Regions from separate parts of the Homo sapiens genome. Here region 1 is linked to region 2. Evidence: fine-mapped expression QTL. A gene starts in region 2. The other region holds a variant in brackets. All regions are shown on one strand. Distances are from middle to middle. Region 1 overlaps ADAMTSL1 (ADAMTS like 1). Region 2 holds the start of ADAMTSL1 (ADAMTS like 1).

Evidence for each region. PIP is the estimated chance that this variant, and not a neighbour inherited with it, causes the effect.
Region 1: its variant is the best candidate, but not a certain one, in a credible set for the expression of ADAMTSL1 in tibial nerve (GTEx, PIP 0.73).

Annotation. Positions count from the first base shown.
Region 1 is chr9:18,696,761-18,702,148 of GRCh38, reverse strand. The region is part of intron 13 of ADAMTSL1 (ADAMTS like 1); the gene reads right to left. Among named protein-coding and RNA genes, the nearest start is that of MIR3152, 130 kb to the right of the region's middle. The variant A/G (reference allele first, on the strand shown) is at 2,909.
Region 2 is chr9:18,471,297-18,476,684 of GRCh38, reverse strand. ADAMTSL1 (ADAMTS like 1) reads right to left here and starts at 2,532. Exons shown (of 29, transcript NM_001040272.6): 1 at 2,390-2,532. The coding sequence starts at 2,452.

The DNA of each region.
Region 1 (5,388 bases), 230 kb before region 2:
CTGTGCTGTTCTCATGACAGTGAATGTGTCTCATGAGATCTGATGGTTTTAAAAGTGGGAGTTTCTCTGCACGAGCTCTCTTTTTTGCCTGCCGCTATCCATGTAAGATGTGACTTGCTCCTCCTTGCCTTCCACCATGATTGTGAGGCCTCCCCAGCCACATGGAACTGTAAGTCCAATTAAACCTCTTTCTTTTGTAAATTGCCCAGTCTCAGAGATGTCTTTTCAGCAATGTGAAAATGGAGTAATACAATGTGAAAATTAACTTTTCCTTTTATCCTATTACTTTCCTCTCTCTTCCTTTCTCATATATGTTTGTTTTAAAAATCATTGGGATTATTAAAAATAAAAACAGCTTTATAGGTGTCTTATTTTGATGCTATCACTAGTTTCATGCCCTAATTTAAAAATGCAAATTGAAACATGCAGGAAGTCTCATTAAAAATACTCAATTTAGGTATAGGTTTTCAATCTTATTACATTTCAAGCCATGAGCCAATAGAGGTTGTGGATTTCTCTTTACCTGTTTGATTTGGTGTATGTTTGTGTATGTGAGTGGTGGCATGACAGTAGGGTGAGAAAAGAGAAGGGAATAAACTGAATAATATGTGAGAAAAATTAGAGTTTAAAATCGGGCACAGTGGCTCATGCCTGTAATCTCAGCACTTTGGGAGGCTGAGGTGGGCGGATCGCCTGAAGTCAGGAGTTTGAGACCAACCTGGCCAACATGGCGAAACCCTGTCTCTACTAAAAATACAGAAATTGGCCAGGTGTGGTGGTGTGAGCCTGTGATCCCAGCTATTCAGGAGGCTGAGGCAGGAGAATTGCTTGAACCCGGGAGGTGGAGGTTGCAGTGAGCTGAGATCTTGCTACTGTATTCCAGCCTGCTGGGTGACAGAGTGAGACTCTGTCTCAAAAAAAAAAAAAAAAAAAAAAGAACCCAAAAGATTACTGATTACTGGATAACTCTGTTAAGTGCATTCTTCCTAGGTTGTCTTAGCCTTTCATTGACTTTGAGCTATTATATTTTACCACCCTCTAAGTGGCAAGAAATTGATAGTGCAAATGATTCCTGCCCAGAGAAATACAGATTAACTGTGTCTAGTGGAATGCAGTTGATTGTTGCCCTGTAGCTAGACCAATTTTGCATCTATTTGTAAATTCATTTGGGCATTCATATTTGCCTAAATAAATAGGGTTTTTAAACTTCCTTTGAATTGGCTGTAACATCTTATTGGTTCCCTCATTGGTTAATGAGGTAGGTTAAATCTTTGTCAGATGTTCATTTTATATTTACATGAGAATCATGGATTTTCCCTTTTAAAAATCTTATCATTAACAAGTGGCCACAGAGGGATCTGGAAAATAGTATATTGGAAAAAGAAAATATGTCATAAGTAATTCTACTCTGAATCAAGTCTTTTCCATAAATATGTTATTTAGGACCAAAAAATTTACATACTTTACTGGTAAAATATGTAATTCCATATTGCCTCATCATTTTTTAACCCAATCTTCATTCTTATATATATTTTTTAAACTTTGAAAAGTTGATCCTTCCCCTGATTCTGGGCAATCCTTGAGACATTAATGGAGTAAAAACCTTAGGATAAAGTGCAGTTAACTAAACCTAAGCTGCACATTTTGGCATCTGAAGAGGCTTTTGGATAAATAGGGAAAAAATTACTACTGGATGAGAAAGAAACTTGGAAGAGAGAAAAGGAAACACCTTCTTTGTATTTCTACTCTTATCTACTTCCCATTTTTACATGAGATGAGAAGATCTCGTGTAAAAACTCTTTAGTTATTTAATGCCTCTCAATGATGTCAAAAAAAAGTTTTAAATAAACCCTCTAAAATAAGTAAGCAAACACCATTTGGAATGCTATAATGGAAGGGAAACTCTTCAATTGAATCACTTTAGGAATTTTAAAATTACTTGTAAAATCTATAATATTAAGGCATTCTTAAAATATAGCTGGAGCATTAAAGTTTTGAGATAATACTTATCCAAAATATCCCTCTAAATTTACTTAGAACCACGCCTAAATCATTCCACATAAATGAGAATCTAACTTATTAGGAAATATCTTTACTCAAGGATATTTAATCTGAATGTGGAATTATGAAAATATTTCTCAACTGCTGTTGTTTACAATTCTCTGGAACTGCAAATAAATCATGCTAGTTATGCAACTCATATTGAGGTCTCTAAGCAAAATTTTTCAAAGGTTCTAGGACATCACTCCTCAAAACATCTGACAGCACCACTTCTTTTCATAGATTTCTCAAATCCTCAAGTGTCAAGCCTAGGCTATGAGGCATCTTCAGCACTGTAAGGTGCCCCAGGAGAATAATCAAAAATATAATGATCCTGGAAATTAAAATAAAACAAATGATAATTTTGAAGCAGCCACCAATACAACTACTTGAAAAGAAAAAGATTGAGTGTCCCTGTCTAATATTGCTAACCAGTAATAATTTGACAGAAGAACTTAATTTAAAAAACATATTAAAGTGGCCAGGCACTATGGCTCACACTTGTAATCCCAGCATTTTTGGAGGCCAAGGCAGGAAGATCACTTGAGGCCAAGAGTTTGAGACCAGCCTGGGCAATATAGCAAGACCCCATGTCTACCAATAATAATTATAATAAGTTAGCTGAGTCTGGTAGCACACACCTGTAGTCCCAGTGACCAGGAAGGCTAAGGTGGGAGGATCTCTTGCACCCAGGAGTTCAAGGTTACAGTGAGCTCTGATTGTGCCACCGCACTCTAGCCTGGGCTACAAAGAAAGACCCAGTCTCTCAAAAAAAAAAAAAAAAAAAAGTAAAAAACCCAGCAAAACACATGGAAAAGCTATATTTACAGGCATTTTCCAAGTAACAAACAGACTTTTTCTCATGACA[A/G]TGACGCTCTTTTGGGTTGAGAGGCAGCTGGCCTCTCTGCAAGAATGCCTGAATGTCTTTCTTGCAGAAAATGCTCAGTGATGGAAGTTGGGTTAAAAAACAAAATGCTGACTGCATTAAAGAGCACATTTTCCTTTCAAAGAGACTTTATGCTAGAGGAAAATGTTGCAGGGGCTGAGTTCTCTGAAAGTTCCAATTCATCCAGAGACTACTGGCTCTTTCAAAGCCTGGGATCTTGATGTTTGAGCACTTTGTTGAAGTCATCTTGAAGTTCTGCCTTCTCTTTTCTCTGATATGGTTCTAGACAAGACATTATAAGGAGTCTTACTAACGGAGGGTCCCACTGACCATCAGGAGGCTGCTTTTCTTTAACAGTAAGAAAAAGGCCAGGGGGAAGATTGGTATCAGGTTCTAAGAACACAGGCCTTACTGTCTGCTATTCTTAACAAATCTAATCCTCATTCTGTCTCATTTCCAATGGCATTCAAAATAATTGACCATTGCTTGCAAGTACTTCTTCTTGAAATACTTCTTCCTCTTGAATTACATGACACCAAACTCTCTTGGTTTTCTTCTCTGGTTACTTCCTTCTCAGTCTCCTTTTCTAGGTCCTTCTATTCTCAAATTCAAAATATTGGCTGAGTGCAGTGGCACAGTCCAGGCATGGTGGCTTACTTTTGTAATTCCAGTACTTTGGGAGGCCGAGGCTGGCAGATCACTTGAGGTCGGGAGTTCAAGACCAGCCTGGCCAACATGGTGAAACCTCATCTCTACTAAAAATACAAAAAATTAGCCAGGCATGGTGGCATACACCTGCAAGCCCAAGCTACTTGGGAGACTGAGGCAGGAGAATCACTTGAACTCAGGAGGTGGAGGTTGCAGTGAGCCGAGATCATCATGCCACTGCACTCCAGCCTAGGTGACAGAGCAAGACTCTGTCTCAAAAAAAAAATTAAAATATTGCAGTGCCTCAGGACTTGGCTTTGTGCTATCTTCCAATGTGTTCATCAATGATTCCTAGTTTCAAATACCATCAGTGTACATGAAGCTTCTAAGAATTTAATCTCTATTCTAGAACTTTCTTCTCTGAAAAAAGTAAACATTAATTTAATTAATGTATTTATCAAAAACTTATTTAGTGTTTCTTATGTGCCAGGCACTACTCTAAGTGCTTTATAAATAAAAGTTATTAAATCTGAACAAGAACATTATCAGATAAAACTATTATTATTACCATTTAATAGACCGATGAGGAAACTGAAGCATAAGTTACACAACTAGTAAGGTTTTGTGCTCTTAACTACTTCACATTGCTATTTTTTCCTTCTTGACATTTTTGCTTTTAAGTTTCAAAGGCAGCTTCAATCTCCAACTTAAAATGTCCATAATGGAACTCCTGATTTCTCCCTTCAGTAACCCTATCGTCTTCCAATCTTCTCCACCACAGCAAAGGATTTTAATGGCTACCTAATTGCTCAAGTAAAAAATCAGGAGTTATTCTTGACCCCTCAATTTCCTTCACATCTCACTTTCAACTGATTGCCGAATTCTCTAAATTCTCCCTTGAAAATATATATAAACTCATTTACTTCTCTCCATTTCCATTACCACCACCTTAATATAGCAATAATAAGTGAACATTACACTTACATGCTTTATGCATTTTACATATACAACTCATTATGACATTGTTGGGAGATGGGTACTGTTGGAAACATTTTGAAATAGGCAAAAGAGATTACTGGTTGTCTTTTCAACGAACTGCTGGCATTTTCTAGCAAATTTCCAGGGGTGGTCTTGTTCTATGGAATTAGGAGCCTTTGATGGTCTTTGCTAGTCTGTTTTGCAACTCCATAGAGATAGAAGTTTCCCTGTAGAGGTCTGGTGGTGATACAGATGTTTCTTGTCCATAATAATATATGTATTTTTCTGTTCATGGCACTGCAAATGGTTTTGTCTGGTAGAAAATATATACTTTATTCTAAATCAAATTCTCATTTGAACTAGTTTTAACATCACATTGGCTTCCTCAATAATTTGTGAGTTAAATAAAATTTTTGGCCAGGCACGGTGGCTCACACCTGTAATCCCAGCACTTGGGGGGGCTGAGGTGGGCAGATCACGAGGTCAAGAGATGAAGACCATCCTGGCCAACATGGTGAAACCTCGTCTCTACTAAAAAAAAATACAAAAATTAGCTGGGTGTGGCGGCACACACCTGTAATCCCAGCTACTTGGGAGGCTGAGGCAGGAGAATGACTTGAACCCGGGAGGTGGAGTTTGCAGTGAGCTGAGATCACACCACTGCACTCCAGCCTGGCGACAAAGCAAGACTCCATCTCAAAATAATAATAATAATAATAATAATAATAATATTTTTGACATGTGATTATTTTATATTTTCATGAGACTTATGATTGTACCCTTTTGAAAATTATATTTTAATAGTACTACTTTCATCTCAATTTCTAGATGATAAT
Region 2 (5,388 bases):
AAAACAAAAAAAAGACTATAGGAAAAACAAGCCCCTCAATTCAATTTCTCTATCAAGTTTGAAGGTTGAGCTGATGATGCCACACTTCTAGTTCTAAATCAAGTACACAACAGGCTAAAGGTCACAATCTCTTAAGCCAATAATTAAATTTAATGCTAAAGGGGGCAGTTAATGAGCAAGTTTAACAAGTGCTCATGATATTGTACATATCTTTAATGATCAAGATGATGCAGAAAGCCTAAATATCTGCAACAAAGGGTACAGACCAACCTGCACCACTGTTTTCATTGTTCTTAAATATTTACAACCACCATACGAAGCAAACATGTTCTATTCTCTCCATTATTTGACCTTTGGGTTCAAATGCAAGCTTATTTCATTGCCTGAAAAAACGGGTTTAAAATGTCTTATCTGTATGATTATTGTAAGGATTTATTGTAATGATTTTCAAACAACTAGCCACATTCAGACACAAAATACATGACAGCTATTACTAATGCTGTTATTGCTTGGCAAAGGGATGTATGTAAACATCAGTCAGTTCTTCCTTTTGTAGCATAACTCTCAGATTTCCACTTAATTTAAATGCAGGCATAAAACAAACCTAGGTTTGTTTTAATTTTATCTTTATAATACAATTATTGTAATTTAAATATGATATGTTTTAAGTCCTTCTGAAATAAGCATACATACCTTTTCATTCCACATAAGTCAAATTATATGCTCTAATACATATATGAATATTCAAGATATCACAGAGGGATATAATGCGTTTACCAAATGGATAGCAAAACAATCTATTCCTGAATGGGAAAGTTTTACTAAAGTATAATGAGATCATACTTCCATATGAAAATATCAAAAAAGTAATGTATACTGGTAATTTGCTTTATGATGCAATATAATGGGAAAATAACACACACTTAAAAAAATCACAAAGAAGGAAAGATGAGACAAACTAATGGTGTATACAAGTAACACATCCCATATGGAAAAAATGAGACACCTTTCATAAATCGCTTGCTCCACAAGTCATAAAGCATACCTAAACATTCTGTTCTTTGTATTTTTCAGAACAGCTAAAACTTATAGTTCATTCATGCTTGAAATGTAGTTTACCTTTAAATTTCTATGAAAAATTAAAAATTTATTTCTATATTTATAGCACTTGCAATGCAGCATTATAATTTCTTAGCTACAATGATGCAAATCATTAAGAAGTGGGAATGTATAAAATATTGAATCACTGTCTGATTACTCTATTTGATGAATCTCCTGGACTTTTTCAGTTTGTACCAAATGGCTTTCTTCCCTACTTCAAAATTATAGCGCAGATCAGATTTGTCAGAATATAATCAGAACAAACATTCCTTCCCCATCAAGGAATCAATGCAACCTATTCATTTGCTACATTTTTACCTTGTTCTCTTCCTGCCTTGTTACCTTCTGAGGAAGTTCTGGCATGTTATAAATGTGACAGGAAAAACTACAATCACATTTGTTTGGATCAGTGTGTGCAAATTTTGGAATCAAACCTTCAGATGAGGTTTACTAAGCTGCCTGCCCAGAACACTCTGGTTTAAAAAATGTGCATTGCTATTAATATTTTGAGTGTAGATTTATTTTGGACAGTAAATGTTCATTTTCTGCCCATAAAACCAAGTATGAGTCACAACGGAACATTTACTTCGAGTCAAAAATGCAATGTGTACTGACGTTCAAGAGCAGAGCATCTTATCACTATGACTGTGGCAATCAGCCGTACTAAAAGTCACCATTCCTTTTTCTTCTTTAAAAGTAAATTTGAGATCAAAGGCCATAATCCTCAATTCATAAATCCTAGCATTAACTTCTATCCATAAATGACTTGCAGTAATTAAGAGCCATAATCTGGGTTGGCTGCAAAGAGGCTCTCATTCCCCTCTTTACCTGGTTCCATAGTACATGTGCATAGATGGAAAGTAATTCATTAAAGGCGGTACGGGCAAGCTCTGCAAAGCCTATCCATCAAAAAATTCCAGGAACACCACAGTGAGTGAGTTTAATTTCAGGATGTCTGTTATCCAAATTCCAAGCATACACACCACCATATATACAGTCCTCAGCTCCCAAACTCCATGCAGTATGTCCCAAAGTTCATGTCTCAGTATCAGTATTACTGTATAGCAGTAACTAATTCCAGAAAGTCTTGCAGACTTTATCTTGCTTGGGAAGTTGAGGTTAAAAGTTCTAGAAGGAGTATTCTCTCTTTGTAATCGTGTAAATTATTTTACCTGGAGTTTTAAGATAAAGACACACACACACACACAAACACACATACACACACACACCCCCAACAGCACCCAGACTCAATGGCAATAGCAATGCATTGAAATGAAAAGGCATTTACCAGGAGCAGGAAAGCCAGAAAGAGGAGCAGTGTGCCAGGAGTTGCCCGACGGCAGCATTCCATGCTTGGATCCTTGCCGGAATCAGAATCGGACACTGAATAAGCTGCTAAGTGCTCCTCTGCCTGCTGTCACATCCAGTACTGGTGCTAACACTCCAGTCCTGCCTATCAGCTTCCATCAGCCCCTCTCACATTTCCTGACCGAGGGGTGGGTGGGTGGATGGGTGGGGGGTAAGCTGAATGGAATCTCTCTCGGAGCAGGCAGCCAGCCAATCAGGCTCCTGCTAATCAGACATGCTGAATAACAAAGCCAGGAGGACAGAGAAAGTGTAACGGTGCGAGCAAAAAAGGGGGAAAAGGACGAAAAAGAAAGGCGAGCGAGCAGCAGAGCGAGAAGGGAAATGCAAAAGATGCAGAATTGCAAAAGATGAAGCCAAGCACTGTGCTTCCCATGGACCTGGTTAGTTCTTTGTGAGATGCATTTCTATTTGCCATTTGCCTGTGCTGATGTCTGTTGCTTTGTAAAGTACAGTAGCTCCCTGTGACTGTGTATTGTTCCATTCAGGAGAGAAACTTAATCCCTGTCAATATATAACATATGCCATAAAGGGAAAGAACCATAGACAAAAACCGACTTAATGTGCCCTGTAAATGTGTTCTGTACAACTGTTTTATTTCGCCTCCATAAAGTTCCTCTTTACTTTCTCTCTTGACTTGCAAAATAAATACTCTATACATTTTCTGAAGGTTCCTCACTAAGCCTAAACAGTGGCATAAGTTATTTTGTGTTATTAAGGACTTAATTTGGGGGGAAAAAAACAAAGCAAGTTGCTTCTCTGTAAAGTGACAATTGAAGGCATTTAAGATTTGCTAATTGTAAAGGCACAATTAGAAACTTAGATCCCCCAGTTTAAAAAGAAACCCTCAACAAAGACTCCAGGATGAGTGGGGCTGAAATTTGGGGTTGAGGAGCAGCCTGGTTTTGATGCACTGCCAACTCTCAACTATCTATTTTAGCCACGGGAGAGAAAGAAAGGATGAATTAAATCCTCAGTTAATCCCCAAACCTTCTTTTAACCAAGTTTCAGCTTCCTCCGCACCTCACCCACGTCCTTTATCAGAGCTGTTATAATGCAGAAAAGGCTGAACTGAGTTTTACCTCATTTTTCCATCCACTATTGCAAGAGGGTTGGATGGGATGACCTTGGAGGCCAGTCCAGCCCTGAAGGAAGTGCTAATGAGCAGTGAAATGACGACAAGGCCAGCAACAGCAACGAGAAGGTCAGGAAGCTTCTGAAGCTGCTTAATCCACCAGCAAGGGAGATTTGACTCTACTAGAGGAAGGTTTTATTACAGTTTTAGAAAAGTGTCAAATGTCAAACAAGGATGTATTTCCCCTTATCTGCAAAGGAAATCATTGAGTTTTGAAAGAATAAAAGAGCAGCCCTGGCCTTACATTGCCATAGGTGTGTCATCAGGACGTTTTCCCTTTTCAGATCTCCTGATAGCCCAGAAATATATGCAGTGGAGGTACAAGACATTTAGAATTAATGTTCTTTCCTTTCATTATTAAAAAATACTGACAAGAGGTATGAAACACACGAATATGGAAAACCTGATCAAGCCATAATGGGCATGTGAATACAGGCAGGTCTGCCTATGTACATACCTGCTGCGTTGCTTTTCAAAAAGGTGAAGAAAAGCAGGTTGTTCAACTTTAGGTTACCTACTTCATATGGTATATCAATTAAAGAGAGAGAAACTTTAAAAATCCTATTTTCATGCTGTTAGGAAAGTCAAGGTCATACAAAGATTATCCTTTGTTCTCAATATTAAGTATGTGGACCTAGAAAAATGGACAGTACAAATCCATAACAAAGAGAGCCCATTCTTGAAATATGCTTTTCCCTTTTAGAAAGATTTGTTTTACAAATCTCTCAAAAACTAGCTAATGCTCATAAGCTAAAGCGTATTCACAAGTAGATGTAAAAATGCTTAACTTTGTCTTTCCACTATTGTTTTTGTCTGAAATCCTCATCACATTAAAGAAAGGTGATTGATTGAAATAAACTTTCATTCATAAAGCTATGTTACATGTGTCTCTCTGTTACACACCAGAGCTTTCTGCTAAAGGGTTTATTTTTTTCCCTCCTATCACAGTCATTAACTGAAGAGTTTCAGCTAGTTCTATTAATGGAACATTTTACCTAATACCACCTCCTCCCTCTTCACACATAAACCCTGCTCATTAAGCAGATCCAAAGGGAAGAATAGGTAATGGGAGAAAGAAAAGTAGCAACAAAGCTAATGATGAGATACTATTTGTAGAGGAACAGAAAAATAATCAGCATGGTCAGAAAATAACTGGGAACCACTTACATGCTAGTTTAGATTCTTTTCTGCTTTGCAAATAAATACTGCCTAGGTATTTTGAGTCAGAAATTTCTGCCTTGAAGTTTTAATGGGCATGCTAATGTACAGCAAGATGGTCATCTCAATGAAGTCACCGAATAATATACTATTTTAAAGTTAAGCCCTCAATCACCTGTTGAATGCCTGGAGGATGCCCACCACACTGTCTCATGCTTCTGATTCCTCACAGCATTTTCTTTCCTCTTGGGAATACCCAGAGAAACTAGGAAAAGCAATTGCACATCCAGAGCTACACAGTACAGGTGAAATTACAAATTTACTATAACTTCAGAAAAGGGAGAACAAAATCAAGTTGGGTTAAGGTGACTGGGAAAAGTTTTGGTCATGAACTAATTTTGATGATGGCCAAAATGTACATGCCATCTTTATGGTTTACAAAGTGATTTTACATTTATGATCTCATTTGACCTTTGTGACTACTTTTTGAAATTAAGTAATCACCCCATTTTATGTACGTGGAAACTGAGGCTCAGAGAAGTTAAGTGACTTGACTAAAGCTTTGCTGGCTAGAACTGGCCATTGAGCCACGGTTTACCGAATCTAAATCCACCCTCATCTCATATTCA